2 separate regions of the Homo sapiens genome follow, and region 2 is linked to region 1. A link means that fine-mapping ties the variant in region 1 to the expression of a gene that starts in the linked region. Tissue or cell type: whole blood. Region 1 holds a variant in brackets; the other region holds the start of a gene. All regions are shown on one strand. Distances are from middle to middle.

Region 1 (8,108 bases):
CCGATGTGCGATCATTTTACACATGAGCTAGCTGTTCACCCTTCCAGGAACTGTTTGCCTGCACTAATTCCGCGCAAGATGCACACACTGAGCCCCTTTGTAGGGCTGAAGGATGACAGTCTCTCCAGCCTAGATTGATTTAGTAAATGACTGACTGCATGGGCCTGAGTACCTGGGTATTCGTGTGTGTGTGTGTGTGTGTGTGTGTGTGTGTGTGTGTGTGTGTGTGTGTGTGTTGACTTAAAGGCGCTCCCTCTTTGCAGAAATAAATGAATTAATGAATTTTTAAAAAGAAGGTAGAACTAACGCATTTTCGAAAAAAGCAAACATCAGGGAATGTGCAGTTTGTTACAACATATCTATCCATGATTCCATTTTGGGGGAATTTATATGAAGATATCCCACAATCGGGCAATCGCCAAACAAGAAAGCATCCTTAATTGAGTTGAAACTGGGGGTAAGGGGACAGAAAAATCGCCCCCATAAAATAATTTCAAATTCAGCCTTGTGTTTCCCAGTAATTGGGCTGTCTGAGGATGAGACTGGGAGTGGAAAAATCCAAGTTAGTCTTAGAGCTGCACTTCTCAAAAGTGGCTGCAAAGGCTTTGAGGTGGTCAGTGATTTGTGTTTATTTACAACAATGCTTTAATTAATCATATTTAATAAGATTTGATATCACTTCATCGGTGGCTAAGCAAAATATTAATTATGATTTAGTTTGTTGACTTACCACTATCAAGAACTTGGATGATGATTTTTTTTAAATCATTTTATCTCTCTGTGCCTTTTCTATGCTTCAGAAGTGACAATGGCATGTTTAAGAGTCTAGGAAACATTTGAGCCTGGGATGAAAAGTCAGATACTGAAGACCCAGTTGTACACATAATGCATTTTTAGAGAAGATACATAAAAATGGACATCCAGCCAGGTGTAGTGGATCATGCCTGTAATCTTACCACTTTAGGAGGCCAAGACAGGAGGATTGCTTGAGGGCAGGAATTTTAGACCAGCCTGGGCAGTATAGCAAGACCCCATCTCTACAAAAAAAAAAAAAGAGAGAGAAAGAGAAAAAAAATGGACATCACTTACAAAGTACACTCTCAATAGCAGATATGCTCTATCTTTAAAAAAAGTTTTGAATTATTAATGTATCACCTTCTTGTTAAAGAAAACAATACCAAAATGTTTAAAATTAAAAGTAAAAATTACCTCCATTCCCACTCCCCTGGAATAATCACTTACAAATCCAACAAGTATCTTTCCAGTCTTTTTAAACACACAAACACATATACTGTATAATATATATGTGTATAAAATATATGTGTGTATTGCATATGCTTGTATACATGCAATATACATTTAATGTACCTATAGAGAGAGGATCGCTTCTTTTTAATGGGATCTTGTTAAACATATTGTTCTATAACTTCCTTTTTACTCAGAAATGTAATCATGAATAGCCTTTAATACCAGTATTATATTATTTGTAGTGGCTCCATAATATTCCAGAATATCAGTGTATGTTTTATTTAGTCCTTCCCATATTTATGGTCATTAAAGTTATCCCAAATTCTTCAGTAATATCAATAATGCTGCCATAAACATCCTTGCATATATATCATAAATTTTAAATATATATTTAAATGCAGCTGTTTTTGTTGTTGTTTTTTGTTTTTGTTTTTGTTTTTGTTTTTTGCCTCTGTGGAAACTGGAACTGTCAACTGAGAAGGGAAAGGCAGCACGAAATGAAGTATAAGTGTTGCATAAAGAATAAAGGCTCAAGTTGCAAAGCAGTGAGTTGGAGTTGGCTTATAGGAACAGAAAGCAGACTCATTAAAAATTGCATTTTGATGTATAATATATTTTTTTCAAAGTCATGAGGCTCTATGTTCTCACAATGTCTTCTTTCAGATAACATACCTGTAGGTGTGCACAACTCCGTCTCCAACTTTGTAACTGAACTGGGCATGGAGTTGGGTTCACTTTGTAACTTTGAAATCTTGATGAGCAGCACAGGAGCCATCATGGCTTCTCTGTAGCTAAGGAGACTGCAGTAGTTGCTACAACCAGTAGCTATATTTGGCTCTATTTCTCAAGCACTGAAATTGAAAATAAAGAAGTATTTTTCCTTCACTTTGATCTCCTTTCTATCTTGCTTTCTTTTATTGTATATTCTTTTTGAAAGTCACCTCATATTCTTACTGATTGGGTCTAGAGTCATTCCTTTATCCATTCACTTATTGATGTACATTGATACATGTACTGAAATACATCAAGTAGAGCTCATTTACCTTCATTATACCAGGAAAAAAAATCACCATTTACCATCTGGGGCCAATAAACCCTTTAAATTTTTTAAAATATTTTCAAAAATATTTTTAAGTCATTTTGCAAATAATTGATAGAAGTAAGAATAAGGGATAGTAAAAAAAAAAGTTAGAAATGTTAATAAGAATTTAAGCATAGCAAATTTAAATTTTCCATATTTTCCTGCTTTTGAAGGTATCTATACCCAAAATAGACGACGTCTTTAAAATTCAACTAACTGCCATACCTATCATGCAGGAGCCTGCAGCATATCCATAGTGTAAATATTGATTCCTGATTTCAAATAACTCTTTAATAGGTTTTAGCATATTCATGGTTCTGCTCTGTTTGGCCTTATCAAAATGTGACACATTTGAAATTTTTAACAAACCAGAATTGTGTTGGCATTGTCACAGGATTCTTAGGGTATTGCTTCGCCAGCCGGAAATCTCTGTGGCCGGTGGTGCCTTTGCCTAAGTTTTGCTTGGGCCTGCTGGGCCCACTCAGCCTGGCAGGCTGCACTCAACTCGTGCTACTGGCCTGGATCCCATGCCTGCCAAGGGTGAGCAGAGCGGTGAGGGGTGTGTGGGTAAGTGAGGTGTCCGGCCACTGCGCACAGCCAGGCATGCTGGCGGCAGTGGGGGCAGGGAACTCCAGGAGCCAGCACAGGTGTCGGCTCCCTGCAAGGCTGCAGCTGGACTAGCCTTGCATACTGCATACTGCAAGCAGCTTCCACGGCTGGCACCAAGGAATGCACTGGTGCCCAAAAACTTGGAGACAGCAGGAATTGCTGAGCCCCAAAGGAGGTGTCACAGCCCTGGCTTGGGGAGCTCCCAGGTCTGAGCTCCCCAAAGGGTCGCATTTCTTCTCTCCTTCTCTCTGCTGTCCTTCTTGTTGCCT[A/G]CAATGTGGCGAGCAAGGGGCACATTTCAGCCCTGTGTTATAGCTCTGTTGACCCTGCCATTTGGTGGGTCCCGAGTTCTTGTCTTGCATCCAGGAAGAATGAGGTACATGGACAAAGGAGGGTGAGCAAGGCAAAGCAGGAGCTTTATTGAGTGATAAAACAGCTCAGAGGAGACCCACAGTGGATAGCTCCTCTCCACAGCCAGGGTGTCCTGATGAGTGTTCAGCTGTCAGCAGAGAGGAAACCCTAGGGTGGGTAGTTCCTCTCTGCAGCTGGTCATCCTGTCATCTTTTTTGAGTCTGGCTGAATCTGGGGGTTTTACGGACTTCAGAGGAGAGGAAGTATGTGCTGATTGGTCCATGGGTGACCCAGAAAAAGCACTGTAATCTCCTACCCTGGTCTGTGGGACTGGCAGCCAGGCCCCCAGGCTTCAGGCTTTCTCTGGCTTGAAGGTGAGCTTCCACTGGGGACCCGTCCCTTTCGGCCCAGGAGCCTGTCTGCCTCCTACTGCTGTTCATGGCGCCCAGACTGTTCATGCCGAGGGGCACCTGCAGGCCAATGCAGAGCTGTCCTCAGCACCCCCTTTGGCCTCCCTCTTGTGTTTGTTGGTGCCCAAGGTCTGGTGGGGGCCAAGGCAGCAGGGGGCTGGCATGTAAGCACTGCCCTGAGCTTGTGCACACCCAGCCAGGTTGCCATAGCGCCCAGGCTGGTCCTCAACTTTGCTGCAAGATCAGACCGGCTGCCAGCAGTGGGGAGAGGCCAGGGAGCAGGAGCCTGTGGGGGAAGAGGGGCTTCCTGGGACCCTGAAAGCACAGAGATGCCAAGATCTGCAGCCATGGCTTGGGCAGCTGCAGCAGCACCTGGGAGGGTGGGGATCCTGCCTGCTTCCAGCCCCCAAGGACACAGGGATGCCTGGGTCTGCAGCCCCAGCTGCACCTCCCCCACTGCAGCGGGCATCATGGCAGTGGCTGCTCCAGACAGGCCACCACTGCCATCAGCATGAAGACTGACATTTTCTTTGCTCCATAAGTGCCAAAAAATTTTATTTCTGGATTTATGAACACCAGTTAAAATAATCCAGTTAATTTTTTACTTCTATATCTTGTATTTTCTTCCAGTAACCTTTGTAAACACACCTGCCTTCAGAACTCATTTGCTAATAAACCACATGGAATAAATTTTGAAACAATTTGAAACAATAAAAGATACTCAACATCTTTTCAGCAAAACAGAATGGTTTAAGTTCTTATTGCAAAATATTTCCTGTTGAATGACTAACTGGATGAGAATACCATATTTTCTTTATTTATTTAGAAATGAATTGTTCATTCATTGATTCTTAAGTATGGGAGAAAAAATTATACCCAGAATATTGTCATCTGAGGACTCATACCTGAGATTTCACTTCTCTGACCAATTTACTATCATCATTATGGCCTAGGAAGCTGATACCTGTCTCTTTGCATTCTTTTTCTGTTCCATCGAATAATACTTTCCTCTATCAACTTATTTTTCTTTGCCATTATGGGAAGAAAATGGAAATTTTTAAATCCTCAACTGTGTTTAGTCTTTAAAAAGACTGCAAAAATGTATCTCCATACTTCTCTTATTCCCTACTTTTTAAAAATGCAATACTTTGCACAACCCAAAAAGAAAACTAAAGCTTGATGCCACCATGATGATTTATTTATTTCCTTCCAGGAGGTTTCATTATTCTTCCATTTTCTTATTATTTTAATCTTTTTAGAAAAGCAGAGTTGAAAACAATTAAATAGCAATGCTAAAATCATTCCTAGCAAGTTGAAATAGCAAAATGGAAAAAATAGGCTCATGAAGATTTCTACCATCCTATCTTGTAATTACCATGCAGCTCCATTGGACCCTGTATAAAGCTTTATACAGGCAAAACCCTGTCTCTACAAAATATTTCTTAAAAATTAGCCGGGCATGGTGGCACACACTTGTAGTCCCAGCTACTTGAGGGGCTGAAGTGGGAGATTCACTTGAGCCCTAGAGGCAGAGGTTGCAGTGAACCAAGACAGCCCACTGCACTCCAGCCTGGGTGACAGATTGAGACTCTGTTTCAAAAAAGAAAAATAAGTAAATTTTTCCTCAGTTCTTTGGAATAATAAAAGACATCAAATATCTTTAAAAATAGTTACAAATAAAAACTCAAAAATAAAACGAGATGCAAGAGGTCCTGATGATGTTCTGAAGGTTAAGGTAGGAGGTATTCTATGGATCACATCATAGCCTCTTTTCCAGGTCATGCAGATTCAAGGTGAGGCAACTGACTAATGAGGAAGGTACTGAACCAATGCTTCACTTCAGACTCTTAAAGAAGGAACACTAGCTAAAGATGGAAATAGTGATATTAACAATAGGTGCTCAGAAATAATTTTGAAATTTCATGTTGAATGTAATCTTCTGTATTTCAATAACCATTTAACACAAGAGAAACTGCTATGAAAGTTAAATAGCTTACCTAAGGTCAATTAAATGAAATATCCTGATCCTCAAAGCTAGGGACACTTATGGGTTCATTCAATAAACATTTACTGACTGTCTACAATATGAAAGAGACTGTTTCTGGATAGCATATGTAGATACCTTTCAAAATGGGTTAAATCTAAGTGAAAGTATTCCAAGAATGTCCTACTTGAGAACGATGTCAGTTTTCCAAACTTTAGGTCTCTAACTTTAAAAATGGCCTTTAGAAAATTCCTCACTCACCAAAATTTGTTAATTGAGCACAACTTTCACTTTTCTTGCTGATTTTACCCTTACCACCTTTTCTTTAGTCCTCACACAGTATAAGGTATAAATACATGCATTTCTCCCCTGGATTGGTAGACTTATAACTTGCTTTGCTCCATAAAGATTTCAGGGGTCATACAATAAATGCATTTATATAGCAACATAAATCAAACTAAAACAAAAAAGAAAAAGTGGTAAAGATTTGTGCAGAAACCTAACTTAAACCAACATAAGCAAAATAATAATAATAGGTGTTTTAATTTGGAGCAATCACATGACACATTGGAAAGGGCAGAGATTCACATCAGCCTTAAGGACAACTGTAACCAGGGCTTTAAGTAACCCCTGCATCTTGCTGCAGTCTCTGTTTTGCTCTGCTTGTCAGTTTCATTCTTGTTCACCCAGACTGATTCTTTCCACGTGGCAGGAAACACAGCTATTCACAGCAACCAGGTTTTTATATCGCATTGCTTCAGCTCAAGTCTCTGGGTTTCTATCTGCCTCTTCTAGGAAAGGCTCTAACTGTCCTAGCTTGAGTCAGTCAGTCACCAATCTCTGATGCAAATATTAACACCTGTAGTCTCAGTCAAAGCCAGAAAAAAAGAGACTATGACTCATCCAGTTTGGATTATGTACCTGCCCATGTAGTCAAGTGCTTATCCATGAACCAATTAAATATAGCCAAGGAGCAGGATCATGTTATACAAAATGGCCACTCCCACAAAAGCCAATCAAGAAGGGATTTACCAGATAAAGTGATTGTGCTAGGAACACAATTTTGAAGCTATCTACTATAATAAAGTAGGATAAATTAATGGTAACAATGCAATTAAAGCCAGGAGTTAAGGTGGGGCACTTGCTTCACACACACAACATTTCACTAATTCAACCTGCTGTTCAAAGTGGGGATAGGGAAGAAAATTAATACAGAGAAGACTCACCTCTATGCTTCTTTCAACTCCTCCATGGTGGTTATGACACTAGCACTGTTGAAGGCAGAACTTCAGGACAGGCCTTCAATTGGCCTCATGTAAAACTGAGAAAAGTCAGTAATATCCACATCACTATAGAGCCAATAGATGAGCTGCCTCAGCAAAATAGATGAGTTGAATCTCTCTAACTCATACTGACCCCAAGCACTCTAAATCAGTCACTCAGCCTATGAGGCCAGCAGAGGGCTGGGATCCTTGCCCAGGTCCCATCAGCTTTCCCCAGGAAGAGTTCTCTACAGTCACATCTGAAGCCCAAAGAAAGATCAAGGAACCTGCTTTAGCCCCTCTGTCACTCAGCCTTGCCTATGGCTATCTCTAGACTATGATAGTTTTTGTAGTCGACTAAATTTGCTCCTAAAACATGAGTATTAAGGGTGATAAACCCACATTTGGTCAAAATCCAAACAACCAGAAAGTTCAGATAATCAGAATTGGTCTTATTGATTGTCTAAAAATGATTGACATCGCAAATTAATCTTTATTTGAAATTATCTAAGTAATATATTTTAAGAACATTAAATATTATGTGTAATTTTATATATTATAATTACTTTTATATTGAATCTATATTATTTCTTCATATATGTTGCATATATTTATATATCTTTATATATATATATGTTTTTAACTTTTAGGTTCAGGGGTACATGTGCAGGTTATATAGATAAACTAGTGTCATGAGGGTTTATTGTATAGATTATTTTGTCACCCCAGCACTAAGCCTAATACCCAATATTTATTTTTTCTGCTCTTCTCCTTCCTCTCACCCTCTACCCTCCACCCTCAAGTAGGCCCCAGTGTCTGTTGTTCCTCTCTTTGTATCCACGTGTTCTCATTATTTAACTCCCACTTATAAGTGCAAACATGTGGTATATGCTTTTCTGATCCTGCATTAGTTTGCTAAGGATACTGGCCTCCAGCTCCATCCATGTTCCTGTAAAGGACATGATCTAATCCTTTTTTATGGCTGCATATTATTCCATGGTATATATATACACCACATTTTCATTATCCAGACTACCATTGATGGGCAATTAGGTTGATTCCATGACTTTGCTATCACAAATAGTGCTGCAATGAGCATATACATGCATGTGTCTTTATGATAGAGCAATTTATATTCCCTTGGGTATATACCCAGTAATGGGATT
Region 2 (8,108 bases), 78 kb before region 1:
AATAGGGAAAGGAGCAGAACTTCTGAAAGGTCAGAAGGTCCAGGGGAGAATAGCTGAAGGCAGCTGTTCTATATCCCTGAGGCAGAGGGCAAGGAGTAGGTACAAGTGAGTATAGGGGAATTTATCTTAAACAGGTTCCTTTACTTATATTGACAAGGAACTGACCTTTGATCATCCACGTGTATGACATTTCCTGAAAGGGGAACAATAAATGTTAGTAACCTTCAGGTTGTGTTTGCTCCAGGTTTTCGACATTGTGCCTGCACTGAATAAAAGCAAGCAGCTCCAGCTTCTCAGGGCTGCTGCACTTCGGCCACTAAAGCCAGGCAGATCCCTAGCTGCTCTTACACGCATACCTGTGTCTGAGTACCCCTTAGATCCATCGCTCGGCCAGGGTCTGCAGGACAGACCTGGCACGTGGGGGTGGGATCCGCTGAGCTAGACCACTTGGCTCCCTGGCTTCAGCCCCCTTTTCAGGGGAGTGAACAGTTCTGTCTTGCTGGTGTTCTAGGCACCACTAGGGTATTAAAAAAAAAAACTCCTGCAGCTAACTCAGTGTCTACCCAAATGGCCACCCAGTTTTGTGCTTGAAACCCTGGGCCCTTGTGGTGTAGGCCTCCAAGGGAATCTCCCAGTCTGCAGCTTGTGAAGACCATGGGAAAAGTGTAATATGTGGGTGGGCCAGAATGCACCGTTCCTCATGGCACAGTCCCTCACAGCTTCCCTTGACTACAGGAGGGAGTTCCCCAACCTCTTGTGTTTCCTGGGTGAGGAGATGCCCCACCCAGCTTCAGCTCACCCTCCATGGGCTGCACCCACTGTCTAACCAGTCCCAATGAGATGAGCCCGGTACCTCAGTTGGAAATGCAGAAATCACCCGCCTTTTGCATTGATCTCACTGGGAGCTGCAGATCGAAGCTGTTCCTATTTGGCCATCTTGCCAACCACCTCCAGTGCATTTGTTATTTCTCTAATTGTGTTCTTCATTTCCAGAAATTGTGATTGTTTTTTATGTATGCTATCTATTTCACTGAGGAATTTTCCTTTCATATCCTGTATCATGTTTGTTATTTCTTTAAGTTAGAATTCACCTTTCTCTAGTGCCTTTTTGATTAGCTTAATAATAAACCTTCTGAATTATTTTCCTGGCAATTCAGAGATTTTGTCTTGGTTTGGATATATTGTTGGTGAGCTGGTGTGGTATTTTGGGGGTGTTCAAGAACCTTGTTTTTTCATATTACCAGAATTGTTTTTCTGGTTCCTTCTCATTTGGGTGACTGTGTCAGGGGGAAGATCTGGGACTCAAGGGCTACTATTCAGATTCTTTTGTCCCACAGGGTGCTCCCTTGATGTAGTGTTCTCCCACTTCCTCTAGGGATGGGGCTTCCTGGGAGCCAAACTGCAGTGATTGTTTTTTCTCTTCTGGGCCTAGTCATCTAGCAGAGCTACTGGACTCCAGACTGGTACTGGGAAGTGTCGGCAAAGAGTCCTGTGATGTAATACATCTTCAGGTCTTTCAGCTGTGGATACCAGCACCTGCTCCAGTGGAGGTAGCAGGGGAGTGAAGTGGACTCTGTAAGGGTCCTTGGTTATATCTTCGTTAAATGCTCTGGTTTTGTGTTGGTTGGCCTCCAGCCAGGAGGTGGCATTTTCAAGAGTGCATTAGCTGTGGTACTATAGGGAGGAAGCAAACTTGACCTAGGGTCATCTAGTTATATATTCATGTTTCTGAGGCAGTGGGCAGAATATGTCCTTTGTCTTGCAACCAGGGCAGGTAAAGAAAGACCAACAGGTTGGGGCAGGCATAGGTGTGGCTGAGCTCAGACTCTTATTGGGTGGGGTCTGCTGCACTTGCTGTAGGGGGCGGGGGTGTGGTTCCCAGGCCAATGGAGTTATGTTCCCAGGGGGATTATGGCTGTCTCCACTGAGTGACATAGGACACCAGGGAAGTGGGGAAAAGCCAGCAGTCACAGGCCTCACCCCATTTCCACACAACCCACACTCCTAAAGGCCAGTCTCACTCCCACTGTGCCCCTGCCAACAACATCGAATCTATTTCCAGGCAGTCGGTGACCAGGGCTGAGAACTTGCCCCTGGCTATCAGCCTCCCTGCTGAGAAAGCAAGCAGACTCATGACTTTTCTTTTTGGCATCTCAGAGAAACTGCAGTGGCGATACAGTTCCTTCAAAGGGTCTGTGAATTCTCTTGGCTTTCCTGGTATGTTGCTGCAGTAATTCTTGAAGCAAAAGTTCATGATGTGAGTCTCCACATGCTGTCCTGTCTGTCCCAGCAGGAGCTGCAAGCTAGTCCTGCCTCCTCACCCTCACAGAACCACCAGAATAATGTTTGACCAAATATCTAGGCACTCTGTGGCCCGGTCAAGTTGACCCATAAAATTAACCATCACACTGGTCCCCATGCAAAGTGAAACCCAGGTTTTGGAGTTCAGGCCCAGGGTCCCCTTACGAGGAGGGCTCCTGAGGGTGATAAGTGTAATGGTCATATCTAGGCTGTCCTTCATAGCCACTTTCTTTCTTCCTAAACCTCAGGATTTAAGAGCACTGGCCTGAAACCTGGATTCGAATCTCTGCCATGTATTAGTTATGCAAACTTTAGCCATATTATTTAATCTCTATGCCTCAGTTTCTTCACCTTTAAAATTGAGATAAAAATAATCTCTACCTCAGGAGATTGTTGTGAAGAGTAATTAAGTTAATATGAAACATTTAGAACAATGCCTGGTACATGGTAAGCGCCCAATAAATATTTTAAAATAAATGTTTTTAAATGTTTTCATCTAAAACCAGTGTGAATCAGTTGTGGGATGTGGAAACCAAAAGCTAATTGAGCACACACAATAAATATCAGTACTTGCTGTTAGTTTTTAAAATATCAGCTATTTTTGTTGCTCTCACTCAGGCAGTTTTCTCTCTGGCCCTGACACTGACCTTAGAAAAGATAAATCTCTACAATGTGACCATCAGGTCTGCTGCAGCCCTGGTCTGCTCTGCAATAAATGAATTTAGCACTTATTGGGGTGCTCAAAGAAGTCCTATCCCTGAAAGACATTCTTTACACTTTAGGAAAACAGGAATGGACAGTAACTCCACCCTTAAAGGCCAGTGAAATATTGACCTAGAGTATCTCCAACCTGGTGCTCTACAAGGCTGGGACTGCAATGTAAACTCATATTCCCAAGGGATCAATTAAGCCAGAATATCCCACAGTTTGTCTATAACAAGACAATGGGGCTTTCTGCAGCCCTCAAAACTCTCAAGTGAGGAAAAATTGTTAAGCCTTCAGATTTTAACCAAGCAGACCAGAAGGTGGTATATAGCCATAGCTTATTAAAAAGCATTTCAGATAGAAAAGGCGGTGCTGTAATTTCAGATCTGAGAAATGAAACTGAAACCAAACCTATATTCTTCCTTCCCCAACCTCCCAGTTGTTAAACACGCCCTGCTGTTTCTGAGCCAATTAGAGCTTGCTGTGAGACAGAAGCAGAGAATACATAGACTTCCGTTAAAACCAGAATGAGGAAAATACTTTTCTCTAGCATCGTAGGAGGAAGAAAACAAACACATCAGATATTTTCAGCACTAAAAGAGATGGTTTTCCCCACATATATGTAAAAGAAATTTGCAAGACTACTGGGTAAGTACAATATCTATTATTAATATTGTTCTTACTATCTATAGCAGCATTTTATTGAATAGAAAGAAATATACTTTTCAATTAGAAGCTTCAAATATACCTCAAAACAAAAAATAGTATTCTAAGCCTAGAAATTCTAGACTATTTGTTGCTCTGACAGCAGTCTGCTTTATATTAGTTGAAAAATTAGTCATAACATTTCATTAAAGATGCAGTTGAAAACTACAGACACTTTTATTGATGAACTCTCCCAAGGCATACAGCATCTTCAGAAAGAACAAACAGGCCAGGTGTGGTAGCCTGTAATTTGAGCACTTTGGAAGGCAAGGACAGGAGAATTGTTTGAGGCCAGGAATTCAAAATTAGCTTGGGCAACATAGCAAGACCCTACCTAGCAAGATTCCTACCAAAAAAAAAAATAGCTGGATGTGGTGGCACGCAGCTGCAGTCTAGCTACTTTGGAGGCTGAGGCAGAAGGATTGCTTGAGCCCAGGAATTTAAGGTTACAGTGAGCTGTAATTGTACCACTGCACTCCAGCATAGGCAACAGAGTGAGACACTGTCTCAAAAACAACAACAACAACAACAACAACAACAACAACAAACGGAAAGATAGATAAAGAACAGGCAATGAAAACTTAAAAGTACTTTACTTTAATCAAATACAACTTCCACCATCTACTCTAAGAAATAGGTAGCTTCCAGAAAACAAAACTCTCTGAGAGCTTCTCAGATATTGTTGTCGGATGACATACATAGGAAGACAGACAGACAGATAGACTACTATGGGAAGTCTTTGGAATTAAGGCAGCTTTATGTTCCTGGCAAAAATACTAGGTTTATGTCTAATTTCTCCCCAAAGCAAACAGTAAGATAATGCAAGACGGTTGGAGGATCACATTTCTGAATAAAGGTCTGACCTTCAACTCCCTTCTAGAAAAGTTAACAAACCCTACAGTTTAACACCAACCAGAGTTAAAAAATGTATGTGGGTTCAATCAGTAACAAATAGTGTTTCCTACTAAGATGCTCAGAACCAAATTTTCAGGTCAGTTTTTAAAGTATACGGAATCAAAACCAGTAATTTTAGGTACTAATTTTACTCCCTCATTTCACCTTTTCTCCCCCTACCCTTATTTAGCCTTCCCCATGATTTCTTTACCTAAGGGTTTTAATATATGTGTGATCCTATATTACTTTCTAAATTACCTAAAAAACATTTTGGAACGAGAGGGTATAAAGAAATCATTAATATGTAAAATATCTATGAACAGTGGCATAAATACCTATGAATGCTGGCATATATTTTCTCCAAGAGTGACATCATCAACAATTTTTTTAAAATAATGTATTGAAAGGCACAGCTATCAATAATCTGACAAAAGCTTTAGGGGAAGAAGTGTGAAAGTGTAACCTGTTCAATGACATTTGAAATATTCATAGTGTCTCTAGTAGAGAAAACAGTCAAAAGTCACTTCTTTATTATTTGCTTACTTTCCCAACCAAATGTTCAGGCCCAGTTCTCCATCCCCCACACTCTTATATGAGAACCTGACTTTACGTTTTCACATATAATGGTATGTAGTTCTTGCATGAATCAAATAATCCATCTAATTCACCAGTCTCATAATCTAGTTTATGACATATCACCAGAGACTAAGGACTGTGTCTGTAAAACTGTGAAAGGTCCAAGTTGATGAAGGAAGTCAGGGAGACCCTAGGAAAAGGGTACTGGTGGGAAGCGGCGAGATGGGGGATGAGAGCCATAGGTATGAGGCCTCAGGAGCCAGCGCACGCTAGCAGCACAATAATCGGGGACCCCTGCTTTATGTGTTAAATAGTGTGGGTGCAACAAAAGTGAGCATACTTTCATAGGGTGGAGTAGACGTGACTCAGTAAATGGATACAAGAAAGTGACTCAGATAGAATGGTTACTAGACGAGGGTGTAGTCAGTTTTTAGACAACTCTAAAACCAGTATTGAATCAACACTGAGTGGGATGCAGAAGTCAAAAGTTCATAATCTGAGACTGCAATAATAAACACCTAGTAAAACTTTAGGACCTCACATACCATTGAATTCACAATTATCCTTGATTCATAACACACCATCATCTTTTTTATGCAAGTATCTCTTTTATTTTATTCATCCGTTTTATTTTCTAATGTATTTTGGAGGCATTATTGGCTTTTTAAATACAGTATAACTTGTATACAATGAACAAACTTAAGGGTAAGCCTTTATGAAATTTTAATATGTACTTATCTGTGCAACCGCTAGCCATATCAAGATATAAAATATTTCCATCACCCCTTCCCAGAAAATATCCACCCCCCAACATCAGTCTGACTTCTATGACAGATTACTTTTGCCTATTCTTAAACTATATAAGTAGAATTCTACAATATGTTTTCTGTTGTAACTGGCTTCTTTCACACAGTATGATGTGATATTCATTCATGTTGTTGCCTGTATCAGTACTTTAATAATTTTCATGAGAATTGCAGATCCAAAGAGTAGGTATATATTTAACTTCACAAAAACTGATAGTTTCTTGAAGTGGCTAAAACAATGTACATTCCCACAGACAGCATATGAGAGCTCCACTGACTCCACATCATCACCAACATTTGGCATTAACAGTCTTTAATTTTAGCCATTCTGGTAGGCATGTAGTATTATCTTGTTGTAATTTTACTTTGCATTTCCATTACGGTAAACATTTTGGAACACTTCTAATTGCACTTCATTAGACCCGCCCCTGTGACTATGAAAATCCCCACTGGTTTTCCTCCTCCCGGTAGGCCAAGTCTAATCCTTAAACCCAACCCCAAATCAACAAATGCCCCCAAAGCTTACATAGACAGGGATCTTTCCTCTCTGGAATTTTAGTTCATCCAGTCCTTGTCATCTGGTCTATTGATGACTTTGTGATTACTTAAAAATATGAGTTTTGCAATTTTTCAGATTTTGATCTCATGGTTGCAGTGGGTGAATAGGTGGCCTTTTGTGATCTCCTACATCACCCTGGAAGTGAGACTTCTTCGGTTTCTTCTAGAGTCAGTTTGGTAAGCTATATTTTTTAAGAATTTGCTCAATTAATCTCAGTTTTCAATTTATTCAGTTAAAGTTGGTTCATTTTTAAAGTTTCTAATATTGCTTATTTGTGCCACCTTTCTTTTTTATTTTTTGGTTAATCATTCCATGGATGTGTCAATTTTATTACTTTTTATCTAAACAGCTCTTGGACTTCACTGAGTCTCTCTTGTCATTTTGTTTTCCACTTTATAAATTCCTGCTCTTATCTTTATTTTTCTCATTCTTCTTATTTCAGTTTTATTCTGTTATTCTTCTTTCAATTTATTAAACTGGCATTAGGTTCATGATTTTCAGTCATTCCTCCTTTTTTAAAAAACTATACTTTAAGTTCTAGGGTACATGTGCACAACGTGCAGCTTTGTTACATATGTATACATGTGCCATGTTGGTGTGCTGCACCCATTAACTTGTCATTTACATTAGGTATATCTCCTAATGCTATCCCTCCCCCCTCCCCCACCCCACAACAGGCCCCAGTGTGTGATGTTCCCCAACCTGTGTCCCAGTGTTCTCATTGTTCAGTTCCCACCTGTGAGTGAGAACATGTGGTGTTTGACTTTCTGTCCTTGGCAACACTTTGCTCAGAATGATGGTTTCCAGCTTCATCCATGTCCCTACAAAGGACATGAACTCATCCTTTTTTAAGGCTGCATAGTATTCCATGGTGTATATGTGCCACATTTTCTTAATCCAGTCTATCAATGATGGACATTTGGGTTGGTTCCAAGTCTTTGCTATTGTGAATAGTGCCGCAATAAACATACGTGTGCATGTGTCTTTATAGCAGCATGATTTATAATCCTTTGGGTATATACCCAGTAATGGGATGGCTGGGTCAAATGGTATTTCTAGTTCTAGATCCTTGAGGAATTGCCACATTGTCTTCCACAATGGTTGAACTAGTTTACAGTCCCACCAACAGTGTAAAAGTGTCCCTATTTTTCCACATCCTCTCCAGCACCTGTTGTTTCCTGACTTTTTAATGATCCCCCATTCTAACTGGTGTGAGATGGTATCTCATTGTGGTTTTGAGTTGCATTTCTCTGGTGGCCAGTGATGATGAACATTTTTTCATGTGTCTGTTGGCTGCATAAATGTCTTCTTTTGAGAAGTGTCTGTTCATCTTTTGCCCACTTTTTGATGGGGTTGCTTGATTTCTTTTTGTAAATTTAAGTTCTTCATAGATTCCGGATATTAGCCCTTTGTCAGATGGGTAGATTGTAAAAATTTTCTCCCATTCTGTAGGTTGCCTGTTCACTCTGATGATAGTTTCTTTTGCTGTGCAGAAGTGCTTTAGTTTAACTAGATCCCATTTGTCAATTTTGGTTTTGTTGCCATTGCTTTTGGTGTTTTAG

What was found. PIP is the estimated chance that this variant, and not a neighbour inherited with it, causes the effect.
Region 2: SAMD9 starts here. The variant in region 1 is fine-mapped to the expression of SAMD9 in whole blood (INTERVAL, PIP 0.99).

The regions. Positions count from the first base shown.
Region 1 is chr7:93,035,378-93,043,485 of GRCh38, reverse strand. No RefSeq gene overlaps it. Among named protein-coding and RNA genes, the nearest start is that of SAMD9, 79 kb to the left of the region's middle. RefSeq lists enhancers at 2,407-2,921, 3,613-3,752, 3,954-4,469. The variant A/G (reference allele first, on the strand shown) is at 3,208.
Region 2 is chr7:93,113,409-93,121,516 of GRCh38, reverse strand. SAMD9 (sterile alpha motif domain containing 9) reads left to right here and starts at 3,538. Exons shown (of 3, transcript NM_017654.4): 1 at 3,538-3,654; 2 at 6,622-6,722.